Regions from separate parts of the Homo sapiens genome. Here region 2 is linked to region 1. The links come from fine-mapping of genetic effects on gene expression. Tissue or cell type: atrial appendage. Region 1 holds a variant in brackets; the other region holds the start of a gene. All regions are shown on one strand. Distances are from middle to middle.

Region 1 (8,102 bases):
ATCGCGCCATTGCACTCTAGCCTAGGCAACAAGAGCAAAACTCTTTCTCAAAAGAAAAAAAAACTATGCTAAGTGAGAGAAACCACATCAAAAAAAAAAAAAAAAAAACACAACACACTGTAGGATTCTATTTACATGAAATTCTAGAAAATGTAAACTCTGGCGACGGAAAGCAGTCAGTTTGTCTGAAAATGGGAGTGGAGGTAAGAAACAGCATGAGGAAGCTGTGGAGGGTGACAGGATGTCTAGTGGCTGATGGTTGTGACAGCTGCATGGGTGTATACATATGTCAGAACTTACTAATAACACATTCAATAGGCGCAGTTTATTGTATGTCAATTATACACCAATAAAGTCGAAAAAAAAAAATCATCCCATAGTAACAAGGAGAAAGAGAAACAGGATGCAAACGCCATCTTTTTTTTTTTTTTTTTGAGGCAGAGTCTCGCTCTGTCGCCAGGTTGGAGTGCAGTGGCGTGATCTCGGCTCACTGCAACTTCCACCTCCCAGATTCAAGCGATTCTCCTGCCTCAGCCTCCCCAGTAGCTGGGATTATAAGCACCTGCCACCGTGCCTGACTAATTTTTTGTATTTTTAGTAGAGATGGGGTTTCACCGTGTTAGCCAGGATGGTCTCGATCTCCTGACCTCGTGATCCACCCGCCTCGACCTCCCAAAGTGCTGGGATTACAGGCTTGCACCACCACGCCCGGCTAATTTTGTGTTTTTAGTAGAGATGGGGTTTCACCTTCTTGGCCAGACTGCTCTCGAACTCCTGGGCTCAAGCAATCCACCCGCCTCGTCCTCCAAAAGTGCTGGGATTACAGGCATGAGCCACTGCGCCCAGCTACACTCCATTTCCAATGGAAACAGATGAGAGATGAAACCCAAACTAGAAACGAGTCAGAGGGTTGCCCAGGCAGGAAATACCACACAGATGTTTGGGAAGAAGCAGTGAGAAGGGATCACACTGCCCACCAACCAACGTCCCTTATCTGCATGAGCAGGAGTGGGGCCTGTGATCTCATGACAGTGGCATGTGAGATACAGGTAAGCTTGGAACCAAGAAGCAGAAGCAGCAGATCAGACACAGACAATCACACAGACAAGCCACACTTGCAGGCAAAAAGAGGAATCACCAGACTGCACATGAGCAGCCCTACAACTGCACATGGCACTGGGTGTAGTCCTCGCTTCTTCTCCCACACAAACCTCTGGCAAATAGATGGTTGAAGAAAAACTTACCTTGCCCAAAGATGAGAAATAAAAAAGCAAACAGCGCAGCATCTACAGGAAGACACTGCAAGAATTAAAAAATAAAAACGAGAAAAGGAACAGGAAAAACAAGTGGCAAGTGAAAACTCACTAGTAAAAATGTTGTCATAGAACAGATGAAAATTGCCAGCAAACTTTTCGCTGAAAATTAAACAACAACAAAAATTAATAAAGCAGGGCTGGGCGCAGTGACTCACACCTGCAATCCCAGCACTTTGGGAGGCTGAGGCGGGCAGATCACCTGAGGCCAGGAGTTCGAGACCAGCCTAGCCAACACGGCAAAACACCATCTCTACTAAAAATACCAAAATTAGCCGGGCATGGTGGCGCAAGCCTGTAATCCCAGCTACCTGGGAGGCTGAGGTAGGAGAATCGCTTGATCCCAGGAGGCAGAGGTTGCAGCAAGCTGAGATCCCACCACTGCACTCCAGCCTGAGCAACAGAGTAAGACTCCATCTCGAAAAAAAAAAAAAAAATGAATACAGCAATCCTCTCCAGAAAGCAAGCACACAAAACAGATATGAGAGCTCAGGGGGAACATGAAACTGGAGCTGACAGAGCTGGAGAAAGAAGGAAAAACATCGTATCTTCAAAGTCATGATGAAATGGAAAGGTGCGCAGAGGAGCATCAAATATTGCTCAAGACACAATCAAGACACTGAGAACAAGACTGAGGAAAGTGAGCAAAAGGAAATGAAAATGAACGGTGTAAAGAGATTACAGAGAAAATTACAGATTTGGAAGATCTACAAAGGACCCATCATATATCCCAGAATAGAAAACTCAAATAGGGGAACATAAATATTTAAAGATATCATTCAAGAAAATTTTCTTGAAGTAAAAGAAGATAAATCTACAAACTGAAAGGGCACACCATGTCTTGGGGAAAATGACAAAAATCTGTCAATAACAAGGTAATTTCTATGAAAGTAACTAGACTAAAAATATAAAAGAAAGGGGGAAACAGCTAAATAAAAAAGACTTTGGACAGTCAAGTGAAAACATCAATTCATAAAGGGTAACAAAATAGAAGTTAGACTCAGACTTTCCCACAGTGGCATTTAACTCTAGAGACAGAAGTGACATCTGTGAAGTTCTCAAGGAAAGAAAGTGTGGCCTAAGAATTTTATATTCTGGAAAGCTGTCAATCAAACACAAAGACTAGAAACCTTTTTGAACTTGCAATAACTGAATATTTTTTTTTCATTTAGTCCCTTTTGATTAAACTACTGGAGAAGGAATTTCAGCAAATCAAGAGAAAAATAGGAAAACTTCAGCAAGAGAACTGACAGTGAGCAATGAATCTACCTGTAGGGCAATGTGAGTGAGGATTAAGGACATATATAAATATAAACCATGAATTTAGAAATGATACATTAAACAAAAATTGGGAAGAAAAGAAAGAAGGAGAGAGTTGTTAGTATCTGATTTCTTTTTTTTTTTTTTTTTTTTTTTTTTTTTTGAGTCAGGGTCTCACTCTGTTGCCCAGGCTGGAGTGCAGTGGCATGATCCTGGCTCATGGCAACCTCCACTTCCCAGGTTCAAGCAATTCTCCTGCCTCAGCCTCTGGAGTAGCTGGGATTACAGGCGCCTGCCACTACGCCTGGCTAACTTTGTATTTTTACTAGAGACAGGGTTTCACCATGTTGGCCAGGCTGGTCTCAAACTCCTGACCTCGAGTGATCCACCCGCCTCAGCCTCCCAAAGTGCTGGGATTACAGGCGGGAACCACCACACCTGGTCTAAGTCTCTGATTTCTTTATCTTTCTTATGGGGGAGGGGGCAAAAATAAGAAAAAGATAGCATAGAGGTATAAGTACATTTTAAAGACAAACACTAAGAAATATAATCTAAAATTAGATGGCAAAAAAGGAGAAGGGGTAAGAGAAAATACACACTTTTCATAAGTGTTTTTAGTAGGAAACATACTATTGAAAAAGGAATTCAAGGCGAATGCAAAGGCTCACACCTGTAGTCTCAACATTTTGGAAGGCCAAGGTGGGTGGATGGCTTAAGCCCAGGAGTTTGAGAAACTTATCTCTAGCCGGGCGTGGTGGCTCACGCCTGTAATCCCAGCATTTTGGAAGGCTGAGGTGGGCAGATTTGCTTGTTGCCTGGGCAACAGGGCGAAACCCTGTCTCTACAAAAAAAATACAAAAATTAGCTGGGTGTGGTAGTGCATGCCTGTAGTCCCTGATACTCAGATGAGGTGGGAGGATCACTTGAGCCCAGGAGGTTGAGGTTGCAGTGAGCTACAACTGTGCCACTGCACTCCTGCCTGGGCAACAGAGTGAGATTCTGTCTCAAAAACAAAACAAAACAAAAAAAAACCCTTATCTTTAAATAAAGAAACTAAGCCGGGCCCAGTGGCTCACACGTGTAATCCCAGCACTTTGGGAGGCCGAGGTGGGCAGATCACGCGGTCGAGAGATCAAGTCCATCCTGGCCAACAAGGTGAAACCCCATGTCTACTAAAAATGCAAAAATTAGCTGGGCGTGGTAGTGCGCGCCTGTAATCCCAGTTACTCAGGAGGCTGAGGCAGGAGAATCGCTTGAACCCGGGAGGCAGAGGTTGCAGTGAGCCAAGATCACGCCACTGCGCTCCAGCCTGTCAACAGAGACTCCATCTCAAAAAAATAAATAAAAATAAATAAAGAAACTAAAGTATACATCTAAAACAGGAAGTTAGAAAAGAAACAAACCTTTAAAAAGTAGATAGAAAGAATACACAAAAAGTGAAAATGGATTAGAAATGAACACGCACCCAAACGCAGGCATTTCCTCACTACCTGTGTACACTTTCCCCGTGCTCAAAACGGGGGCAAGGCTGGGGGTCGCTGCCCTTGCACTGCCCTCTCCTCTCCCTCCTCCTCCTCCCTACCCTTCCCGGGGCTTACCAGGCACCCTCTCAAGGCCTGATCCATCCCCACCCCATCTCAGCTCTCCTGCGCCCTCCAAGCATGGCCCACCTGCAGCAGGGGCAGAGCGAGGAGCATGCGCTGGGGGGAGGGACAGAGGGGACACAGCGTTGCCCAGTGCAAGGGGGCTAGCAGCCCCCAGAAGGCAACCTGTCCGTGCAACGGCTGAATGGATGGACCAGCAGGTGGCAGGTGGGGACAGAGGGGAGACACAGGGCCACTTACACCCCTTCCCTATTCCGCAGAGCAGAGGCGCCCCACCCTAGCTGCACATGAGAATTACCAGGGAGCTTTAAAAATACCAGGGTCTCTAAGTCCCTTCTCCATACACTCTGATTGAATCAGTTCGTGTCTTTCCACATTGGTCATCTGGTTCCAAAAAGCAAGGTGCACTGGGGAAAGAGGCAGCCCAGGGCATGGAAAAGAGAGGGGGCTCTGGAGCCATCGTTTGGAGTTTAAGCCCTGTCTCTGCCTCTCACTGGCTGTGTGATCTCAGG[C/T]TGGCACCTTAACCTCCCTGAGCCTCAAGGTCGCCATCCGTAAGATATGCTTCCCTCCCAGAAGGGGCTAGGGATGGGTGATTGTACATGTAAACCCTTCTGCTGGTGCAGGGTGCCCAGGATGAGTGTGAGAAGGAGGGCTGCCATGGTTCCCCTGCAGCCACCTCTGACTCTCGGCAGGTAGGCTAGGCTCCAGGACCACCTGCCCCCTCTGGGGAGTGCAGATGTGAGCGAGACCCAGGGGGTGGGGGCAGCCTTGGATCCACAGTCCCAGCTTCGGAGGCTATTCTGGTTCCAATTCAGAATCCCTGGCTCCTGGCTCAATGGGCTTTGTCCCAGAGATGTAATTTCTATTTTGATTCCATGTGACATTTAATGAAATGGCTTTCAGACACCACACAGTGACGGAGTTATGAAACCACAGCTTCTGGATCCTCAACACGCCTCACGATGACAGGACCCCTCTTGCTGCTTAGGGAGCTGCCCCAAGTCTCTTGAGGCCTGGGGCCCAGGACCACTGAGGTGGGGTCTTCACTGCGGAGTCCCTGGGGTCTGCCCCAGGCCCACTGTCTGGCACCCACGTCTCATCCTAGCTGGACTCACAGCAGCCTCTGCCTGGGTTCCCGCCTCAGTCTCCCTCTTGCCAATCCAGTGTTGTTCTAACTGCAGATCAAAAATATTCAGGGAGAGAGGAAGCCAATGTAGAGGATTGCAAACAGCATTGTTCATAGAACAAATGAGCCAGAATAGAAGCAGAACAGAACACGCCAGAACGAGCTGCACATGGCAAGGGCGACTGCAGCTCACAAGCCTGGGCTGCGAGTGTGCACACTAGGTCTCTATGTATGGGAATTTGAGAAAGTTTGAATGACGTGGCTCTAACTCACCACCGTGCCACTCCCCAGTTACAACTTTCGGGATGGACTTCAGACCCCTCAGCACAGCACTAAAAACCCCTCCAGACCTGGCCCCTGTCTACCCACCCACCTGGCCCACAGCCAACTCCAACCACACTGAGCCACTGGGTACTGCAAACTCTGCCAGGAGCTCCCATACCTGCCTGGAATGCAAGAGCCTCCCTCCTCTCTCCAGGCCTCCTTCCCTCCCTCCTTTCCCTCCCGCAGCTTCCACTCTCCCACAGACTCCTACAGATCCCTTACCCTTCAAGGGAAAGGCCACCTCCTCTTTGGTGTCTCCCTGATTCCCCAGCAGCCTTGGGGGCTCCCGGCCCGGTGCTCATGCTACATGGTGTACACTTTGCATAACACGGTCACCCCCACCAGCCAGTGGGGTCATTGTTTTCATGCCTCCCCGCCCTTCCCCCAGTGGGCAGCTAGGACTTCCCTCGAGGGGCTGGCTGAGCTCCTTGGTGCTCAATGTCGTACCATTTACTGACGGCAAGTGCAGGCTGACACCGGGGCCTCTCCCAGGTGACCCTCTCCACATGCTGACCCTCCCTGGGTAAAGACAACCTCCTAGATTCTATAGAAGCAAAGATATAAATATCTCCGGAGCCCTTCCGTTCAAAAGGAAGTAGAAGCCCTACAATTTCTCAACAACTTGGCTATTAAAAATAGGAATTCCACCTACACACCAGAACAGTTTGTTGCGGATCATGGAAGGGCCAGAATCGTGAGGTCACATGTGTTTGGGACTGAGAAAGCTGCTGGACCCAAAAGCTGAGCACTGTAAGAAGGCAGGCAGCTGTCTGCAGCTGGTGCTACAGCCCCGAGGCCCCAGAAATCTCTAGAACCACAGGGATGCCGAATGGTACTCTGCCAAGAGTTTTATAAAACTCACTTCCCCACCACATCATGTGAACATCTGCACAGCACAGGTTCCAAAGGAAATTGAAAAAGAAATAAATCGTGCATTAGCAAGCGTATCTGAGACCTCGTCTCTGACCTTGGAAGAGTGTGAGGAGATGCCTCAGACGCCGGCTCCTGCTGCCACCTCCTCCCACTCCCCGTCCTCAAAACAGAGCCCCAGACCCGGCCCAGAGTTGGGGTCCCCTGAGGATTCAGTCTTCCACATTCATTTCCTGGCCCTCAAGGCCTGAAGCTCCATCCTTCCGCTACCCCCTTGGGTTACAGGAGAGTCCCCAACAGGCGCTGTGCGTGAATAGTGATGGCAGAGCGGACATGCATTCTGTCAGATCCACAGCCACTCCAGAGACAGCCTTGGTGGAGACGGGAGAGGAGGAAGGGGAAGAAAGTGGGCAGAGGGGCCGGGTGTGGTGGCTCACGCCTGTAATCCCAGCACTTTGGGAGGCCAAGGCGGGCGGATCACAAGATCAAGGGATCGAGACCATCCTGGCCAACATGGTGAAACCCCGTCTCTACTACAAATACAAAAATTAGCTGGACACGGTGGTGCACACCTGTAGTCCCAGCTACTCGAGAGGCTGAGGCAGGAGAATTGCTTGAACCCAGGAGGCGGAGGTTGCAGTGAGCCAAGATCGTACCACTGTACCACCTGGCGACAGAGCAAGACTCCGTCTCAAAGAAAAAAAAAAATTGTGCAGAGGTAGCGAGCCCCACTGATGACTCCCACTCTGGGGGCCAGGGACTCCAGTCATGATCTCAACCAGGCCCCCCCAGTGCAACCTGCACGTTACCGTGTCAGACACAGCAGCTTCCCCTGCGGGTCACTCACTCGCTCATTCATTCAACAACACTGAGAGTGCCTGGCCAGGTGCTGGCTGAGCACACCGGAGGACACGGACCCCATCCCTGCCCTCAGGGCACTCAGCTGGAACAAGGCATCAGAAAAGTGTACGATTCTGTGCACTTTGGATAGTATGAAAAAGCGAAGTGGTAAACACTTGGGGCCATGAGGGCTCTGAGGAGGCCCCTAATCTGGCCTCACTGGGTCTGAGGAGGTTCCCAGGGAAAGTGACCTGTAAGTTGAGACCTGAAAGATCAGGAGCGGGTGGGTGGGGACAAAGTCCAGGCTAAGGGAACAGCCTGTGTGAAGGCAGGAGGCTAGAGGATGTGGTGTTTAAGAAGCTCAGGCTCAGGCCAGGCATGGTGGCTCACGCCTGTAATCCCGGCCCTTTGGGAGGCCAAGGCAGGCAGATCACGAGGTCAGGAGATCAAGACCATCCTGGCTAACACGGTGAAACTCTGTCTCTACTAAAAATACAAAAAATTAGCCAGGCGAGGTGGTGGGCGCCTGTAGTCCCAGCTACACGGGAGGCTGAGGCCGGAGAACGGCATGAACCCAGGAGGCAGAGCTTGTAGTGAGTCGAGATCGCGCCACTGCACTGCAGCCTGGGTGACAGAGCAAGACTCTGTCTCAAAACCAAACAAAACAAAACAAAAAAGAAGCTCAGACTCAGGAAGGTTCAAGGCAGAGGTGAGCGGGGAGCCCGCGGGCACCTGGGCTCAGGCAGGGCCGAGAGCTGCGGTGAG
Region 2 (8,091 bases), 67 kb after region 1:
TGCATATTCATAAGAACCAGCACCTGCACAACACATCTTTCTTACGTAACGGCTTGGGAGTGCCATGATTGGTGGGAAACTGCAGGATATCTGAGCAGGGAGAGTAGATCTGCGAGTCCTGAAGCAGGGGCCCTGGAGTGGGGTTTTGAAAGGTGGGTTGGTTTGGCAGGCTATTGTAATGACTGGTCCATGAGTCGTGGTGGGAGGAACTGGCTTCATCTGCAGTAGATGCCTGGCTACTCCTGAAACCAAGGAAAACATCGTTCGGGCGCCCGAGTCCTTCCGAAAAGTATCACCAACTGTAGTCCTCTTCCAGGGTTTAATTTGTTTAAGGAAAGGAAGTTCTATTTTCCCAGAGTTAAGCAGAGAGTTCCCAAACTGGGCTTCACCTTCCACCCACCATCACCAGCACCCACGAGCACTATCACCGCATAAAAGAATCCTTCAGCTGCAGGTGTGACTGCCAGATATTTTCTTAAGAAGGATTACACCCCATTTCAGTTCTCCAATATTCCTGAGACGTTGCTAACTCTTTCGGACAAAAATTCTAGAGACGATCTTAGGGACATTAGTCATGCGGAAAGCTTTTAGGTTGTTTGCTTATTATGGGAAGCTTCTAATAAAATCAATCTGAGTTTTCAGCATATTTGATGGAAGCCAGGTCTACAAATGTAGCAGATTTTAAAATGTTCTCTCAAAGTGGAAAGAATGCTGGCTCTGGCATTCCTCCCGCTGAAGCGGAGCTAATGACAAGTTTTGGGAAACAGTGTTGGAATCAAGAGTGGCCAGAAAAATTGGTTGCCCTGGGAGGTGAACACAGGGAGCTGTGGATGTATTTAAACATGAGTCACATGACTAGCTTCTATTTAGGCAGAAGCAAAACATGTTTTCCTTTAAATCATTAAACTGAGTGAACTCAAGAAAAATCTCGTTTGCCTCTAAGTGTTGTTGTTCTTTGGGGTTTAAAGAGTTTCAAGATGAGATTTGTTTTCTTAAAAACTTATATCAATAGCTTCCAAACGAGACACATCTGTAGACTTAGCGCACCCAAATGACATCTGTGTTTGGCCCCACATCCTACACCTGGATGGTTAAGATGGCACATCAAAAAAAAGGGGGGGAGAGGCCAGGCACGGTAGCTTACGCCTGTAATCCCAGCACTTAGGGAGGCCAAGGCAGGTGGATTACCTGAGGTCAGGAGTTCAAAACCAGCCTGGCGAACATGGTGAAACCCTGTCTCTACTAAAAATACAAAAATTAGCCGGATGTGGTGGTGCGTGCCTGTAATCCCAGCTGCTCAGGAGCCTGAAGCAGAAGAATCACTTGAACCCGGGAGGCGGAGGTTGCAGTGAGCAGAGATCCGGCCACTGCACTACAGCCTGTGCAACAGAGCGAGACTCCGTCTCAAAAAAAAGGCAGGGGGGATCATAAATACTTCCCTTTAAAAAATTTTTTTTCTTTTCTTTTTGCTTTTTCTTTATTGTTTGTTGTTGTTGTTGTTTGTTTTGTTTTTTTTTTTTTTTGAGACGGAGTCTCTTTGGTTGCCCAGGCTGGAGTACAGTGGTGCGATCTCGGCTCACTGCAACCTCCGCCTAACGGGTTCAAGTGACTCCTGCCTCAGGCTCCCGAGCAGCTAGGACTACAGGTGCCCTTCACCATGCCCGGCTAATTTTTGTATTTGTAGTAGAGACAGGGTTTCATCCTATTGGCCAGGCTGGTCTCGAACTCCTGACCTGAAGTGATCCGCTCGCATCAGCCTCCTAAAGTGCTGGGATTACAGCCTCATTTTTTTTCTCTTCTTTTTCTTTTCCCTCTCTGTCTCACCTCTCTTCTCTCTCTCTTTTCTTTTCTTTCTTTCTTTTTTTTTTTTTGAGACAGAGTCCAGCTCTGTTGCCCAGGCTGGAGTGCAGTGGCGTGATCTCGGCTCACTGCAACCTCCACCTCCTGGGTTCAAGTGAGCATGCCCAGCTAATTTTTGTATTTTTAGTAGAGACAGTTTCACCATGTTGGCCAGGCTGGTCTCAAACTCCTCACCTAAAGTGATCTGCTCGCCTCAACCTCTGAAAGTGTTGGGATTACAGGCATGAGCCACCACGTCCAGCTAGATTATAAATACTTTCTTGTTCTTTTTTTTTTTTTTTTTTTTGAGACGAGCCTCACTCTGTCGCCCAGGCTGGAGTGCAGTGGCGCGATCTCGGCTCACTGCAACCTCCACCTCCCGGGTTCACGCCATTCTCCTGCCTCAGTCTCCTGAGTAGCTGGGACTACAGGCGCCCGCCACCACGCCCGGCTAATTTTTTGTATTTTTAGTAGAGACGGTGTTTCACCGTGTTAGCCAGGATGGTCTCGGTCTCTTGACCTCGTGATCCACCTGCCTCGGCTTCCCAAAGTGCTGGGATTACGGGCGTGAGCCACCGCGCCCGGCCTCTTGTTCTCTCTTAATAATAAAAATAAATGGATGTGAATCTGAGTCCCATTTTTATTCCATTTTCTTAGGCATATGTTTTTTAATGTCTACTCCTGAAGTGATAAAATAGTAGAATTTCAAGTCTGTGGTTGGGAAAGTTTAGCCGAAATTCCATTTTCACAATTATTCTGGAATCCAATCAATCAGGATAAAAGTTAATGTCAAGTCAAGATAGGTGAGTTAAACCCAGGACTTTTGAATTGCCCTGTCTTGGAAAGGCTGGAATTTAAAGTTGCAGGAGGTGGGCAAGGGAAGGAAGTAATCACATTTAAGTAAAACACAGAACCAACCAACAGGAAGGCTCGCTGGGTTTGAATTCGGCAGCTTTGGAGTGTTTTCTAGTCTGGGTTGTGGTTAGTTCACTTAAAAAGAAAAGCGGTTAAGGGAAAAAAAAAAAAAATCCGAGACCAAAAGCTAGACTTATGACCACCACCTAGGTATTTCCTTTTGCTTCTTTCCTGTGGCGGGGGGAGGGCGAGGTGGGGGTTGCTTTGCCTTTCTCCTTCATTTTCAAAGTTTTTCTTTCCCAAAAGTAGTGACTATTTGGAGGTTTTGATGAGGCTCAACCTTCACACATCCAGTCTCCGCTGGGGCAACAGAGGGAAGGAGAAGGCCGGAGGGGGCTGTTGGTGCCCGGAGGATCGCCCCTTCCCTCCCGGGGCGTCTCAGGCCTGGCGGACACTGAAAGGTCGGGGCGCACTGACGGCCGGACCTCGCGAACGCAGCGCGCGCAGCCCTCAGGGTCTTTCCCCCGCCCACCCCGCGCATCGCTAGGGGGCTCAGGCTTTGGGAAGTCCCCCCAAGCTCCCGCGGCCTCCCACGGGCCCGGCGAGCGTCGTCTGGGGAGCGTTTCCATAAATGAACAAACTCAGCCGGGCCCCCCGCAGGGTTCAGCAATTCCAGAAGGCCGGGACAGGGCTGACCCGACGGCGGGGAGCGAGGGGACCCGTGGGCGGGAGTGGGGGGACTGTAGGGGGAGACCCGGGAGGGGAGGCCGCGCCCGCACCCGGTGCTCCTCGCCGGGGTCTCGGGCCCGCCCCTCCCTAGGGCCGGTGTGCGCCCCCTCGGGACGCCTATGCAGCCCTGCCTCGCCCGCCCCTCCCCAGGCTCCGGCTCGCACCCCCGTCCTCCGGCCGCGACCCCCGCCCGGGAACCCTAGCCCCTGGCCGCGGTCGCTTCCCGGACCTCGCCCCGCGCCTCCCCCTGCAGCCCGCCCCGGCCGCACCCCCTAGCGTCCCCGCCCCCGGCCGCGCCCCCTCATGGGGGCCCCCTCGGCGGTCCGGGAGGCGGCGGGCGCGCCATGGGCAGCGGCAGCAGCCGGAGCAGCCGGACTCTGAGGCGGCGGCGCAGCCCCGAGAGCCTCCCCGCGGGGCCCGGAGCGGCAGCCCTGGAGGGCGGGACCCGCCGGCGGGTGCCGGTGGCGGCGGCCGAGGTCCCGGGGGCAGCCGCGGAGGAGGCGCCCGGCCGCGACCCCAGCCCCGTGGCGCCCCCCGACGGCAGGGACGAGACGCTGCGCCTGCTGGACGAGCTGCTGGCCGAGTCGGCGGCCTGGGGCCCCCCGGAGCCCGCCCCGCGCCGCCCAGCCCGGCTCCGACCCACCGCGGTCGCGGGGAGCGCGGTGAGTGTGGGAGCCGCAGGGCCTCGGGGGACGGCGGGGACCCCACTCACCGGCCGCGCGTCCCCGCCCCAGCCCTGGGCGCCGGTCGCGCTGCGCCCCCTTCCAGCCTCCGACTTGCGTGCTCCCCGCTGCCCCGGCCTCCCCGCCCCTGGGCCCCCAGGTTTCCTCCCTCTCTGCCCCGTCTCCGGGTCTGTGTCCAGGCGTGGGGGCGATCGCGCTGGGAGCGGCCGAGGAAGGACACCCCTAGGCGGAGCGCGCCGGGCTCCCGGCTCCCCTCGGGCCCGCGGCCCCGCCTGGCCTTCCCGGGCCGCCCTGGAGCGGGGCGCCGGCGGTGGTGGCACGGCAGCCAGACGGTGGCTCAGAAGCGCCCTGCCGCGCCCACCGGTCCAGATCCTTGCCTTGCTGGGCAGGCAATTCTCATGTTACTGATATTTTTAGGATGCTGCGGAATCTCTTTTGCGCTTCCTATTCTCTCTCCCTGAATACTCGTAATAACAGTCCTGCTGTTCTAAAAAAACAATAAAACAAGCACTCTGGTTTGGCAACCGTCTTCGCTCCAGCAGAGCTGAATGAACAAGATCTTTAACATCCGCTCCCGGGCTCGGGGAGGATGCCAAGGGCCTCGTCCTCCTCCCTGAGGCCCGGGAGGCTTTGCTTAGCAGCCGCTGGGAGCCGAGGAAGATGCCTTCCTGGGTGGCTACCGCACCAAGGAATCCTGAAAAGGCCCCAGGGAGGGTGGGGGAGAGGGACAGCCCCAGGCGACAGTGCACAGAGCTCTCTCCCTCTGGCCCTGGTTCCCTGCTCCTCTCCCTTACGGTCTTTAAAGAGGAAAAGCGAGCTGCAGTGAGTAGGGCTGAATTATATAACAAGATTCCTTTAATACCACATCAGCCTGCAGTTATATAACACTGCCTGGACAAATAGCTGAGAAATTTGGGAGGAATTCACACATAGCAAGGAGGCAGTTAATTTTAGTGTTCATTTTCAAGTGCTTTGGAAACTCGGAGGTGAAAATGAGAGGCAAATAGCAAGAGTGAATGTTGTGCCCTCTGATTTGCTGATATTATTCATCATGGTGACTGCTCGCTCTTTAAGTCATTTTCCAGCTATCCTTTGAGCACCGGTCCCGCTGTGGGTGCTAGGGATGAGGCCACACAGCATAGCCCTTGCCTTAAAGAAGTCTGCAGCTCGATGGGGGAAAGTAGAAAGCAGGGCGATGAGAGATCCGTATCAAAAGGCCACAGGAGAAAGCGGCTAATCCCAAGGGAGGCAGGTAGGCATTCCCGAAGGGATGAATTTGGAAGTTGTCCTGAATCTGGAAGGGTCTGTGGACGTGATCCAGGCAGCAAGTTCTGTGCAGAGAGAACCTCATGCCTAATGTCACTGGTGGCTGGGGCAGCTGGTGCCCAGGGCATGGGTCAGAGAGGTCTTAGGAGAGTATGCCAGGCTGCAGTGCGCCATGCCAAGGGTATTCCATGTTAGCGAGTTTGGGTTACTATGAAAGTTCTGGGTATCTGAAAGGTAAGGATTGTGACAGTTTGTGTTTTAGGAACGTCACACCGACAACTGTAGGGAGGATGAACTGGACAGAGTCAGACTAGGGATAACATGACCACCTGTGTGAGTGGGTGGGGGAGTCTGCAATGATCCAGGTGGCCGAGTCCTGAACCAAGGCAGTGGCGGTGAGAGGCTTGCAGAGGAGATGGTTTCAGGAATTGTTGAGGAGGTCAGCCAGCTGCAGTTGCCCTTCTGGGTGTGAACTGTGTGTATCTTTTTTCTTTCTTTCTTTTTTTTTTTTTTGAAACGGAGTTTCACTCTGTTGCCCAGGCTAGAGTCCAGTGGTGTGATCCCGGCTCACTGCAACCTGTGCCTCCCAGGTTCAAGCGATTCTCTTGCCTCAGCCTTCTGAGTATCTGGGATTACAGGTGCCTGCCACCACGCCCAATTTTTGTATTTTTAGAAGAGACGGGGTTTTGCCATGATGGCCAGGCTGGTTTCAAACTCCTGACCTCAGGTGACCCGCCCACCTTGGTCTCCGAAAGTGCTGGGATTATAGGCATGAGCCACCTCACCCAGCCGACTGTATGTATTTTCTGCACCATAAATATTTCTTGAATAAATGAATCCTAGAATCACAGATTATTCGAGGCGGAAGGGAGCCCTTGGGTCCAATTCATTATTTTCAGATAACGCCTGCATACTACAGATGTGCGCCACCACGGCCAGCTAATTTTTGTATTTTTAGCAGAAACAGGGTTTCACCATGTTGGCCAGGCTGGTCTTGAACTCCTGACCTCAGGTGATTCACCCGCCTTGACTTCCCAAAGTGCTGGGATTACAGGTGTGAGCCACTGCACCCGGCCAATAACACTACTTTTAGTTTCTTTAGGAAGAAAGGAGGAAAAGAAACCTTTAATAGCTTCATAACTGTCTAGCATTTTGGAGGAGAGACATATTCTTCATAAAAGAACATCAAACTCAAGTGAAAGTTATTCTTTTAAGCACTCACATTTAAAAATTTTGACCACTGTTGACTGGGAATGTCTTAGAGATGGTCTGTTTATCCCTGAATCATCATTCTGAATATTATGTTTTGTTTTTGTTTTTGTTTTTTGAGACAGAGTCTCGCTGGAGTGAAGAAAGGGGGAGTGAGGTGGCAGGCACAGAAGCTGGGGTTGTGCTGGGGGAGGGGAGCTTCTGCAGTCATCCAAGTGAGATGTGGGGTCATTTGGACCAGGTTGGCGGGCGGTGGTGAGGGGCGGTTGGCTTATGGACTCACTAGTGGGGTGACTGGGATGTGTGAGAAAGAAAGGAATCAAAGGTGAACCAGGAGTTCTTGGCCAGAGCAGCTGGAGGGATGTAGCTGCCGTGAACAGACACAGAAAATGTGGAAGGGGCAGGTTTGGGGTGTCATTAACCAGGAAGTTGGTTTTCAGTATGTTAAATTTGAGATGCCTGTCAGACATCCAAACAGAAATGTCAAGTGAGTAGATCTTTGTAAGAGTTTGGCATTCAGGGGAGAGGTCAGGTTTGGAGTTCGTTTAGAAGCCATTAGAACATGGGAGGATTTAAACCCATGAGATTAGATGGGATCACCAGTGACGATGCTGCCAGCGTGTGCTTAGGAAGCATGGATGGGCACCGGGCTCTGTCCTGGGAGCTTCGTGTATGTGAACTAACGTGGGACGAGGCCAGGGGTTGAGCACGCTGTTCAAAGGTTGAGGAGATAGAGGCATCCTAAAGAACAGCCAGTAAAGGGGAGAAAACCAAGAGAACATCCGGAAGCCAAGGGAGGAAGGTGCTTAGGACGGAGGGCGTGCTCAGCTGCTGGAAGTGCTGCTTGGTGGGATATATGCGGGAAGCCTGAGAGCTGGTGGTTGAATTGAGCCACTCGGGAGGTCTCAAGGTCCTTGGTGAGAGATGGGTCAGAGAGTGGTGGGAGGCGCCTTGGGCTGGAGTTCATGGAGAATAGGACACAAGGAGGGCGGTGCAGTCAGCTCTTGTAGGAAGGCTCTTTTTACAGCGCAGCAGTAGTGGATGGCGGTAGGGATGGTGCTGCTGGACCTGGAATTCACCAGAAAATCTTAGTCCCAGAATGGGCTGGATAAGAGGAGGTTTTGAGCATTAGATGCCCTCGTGAAATTTGAAGGAACCCTTGGAGAAGAAATTTTGGTTTAATCAAGTAGACATAGATTCAGTATTTTAATTTTAATTTTTATTTTATTTTTGAGATGGAATCTTGGTCTGTCGCCCAGGCTGGAGTGCATCGGCTCACTGCAACCTCTGCCTCCAGGATTCAAGCAATTCTCCTGTCTCAGCATCCCGAGTAGCTGGGACTATAGGAGCATGCCACCACGCCTGGCTAATTTTTTTGTATTTTTAGTAGAGATGGGGTTTCACTATATTAGTCAGGCTGTTCTTGAACTCCTGACCTCAGGTGGTCCCCCTGCCTTGGCCTCCCAAAGTGCTGGGATTACAGGTGTAAGTCACTGTGCCTAGCCAGATT

The links. PIP is the estimated chance that this variant, and not a neighbour inherited with it, causes the effect.
Region 2: it holds the start of CYS1, and the variant in region 1 is fine-mapped to the expression of CYS1 in atrial appendage (GTEx, PIP 0.99).

Annotation. Positions count from the first base shown.
Region 1 is chr2:10,142,778-10,150,879 of GRCh38, reverse strand. It overlaps a transcript of RRM2 not described here. Among named protein-coding and RNA genes, the nearest start is that of RRM2, 24 kb to the right of the region's middle. RefSeq lists an enhancer at 7,550-8,102. The variant C/T (reference allele first, on the strand shown) is at 4,690.
Region 2 is chr2:10,075,900-10,083,990 of GRCh38, reverse strand. It overlaps CYS1 (cystin 1), which reads left to right and starts at 3,580. Exons shown (of 3, transcript NM_001037160.3): 1 at 3,580-4,085. The coding sequence starts at 3,768. RefSeq lists an enhancer at 962-1,021 and silencers at 3,266-3,505, 3,676-3,735, 3,796-4,035, 4,106-4,445.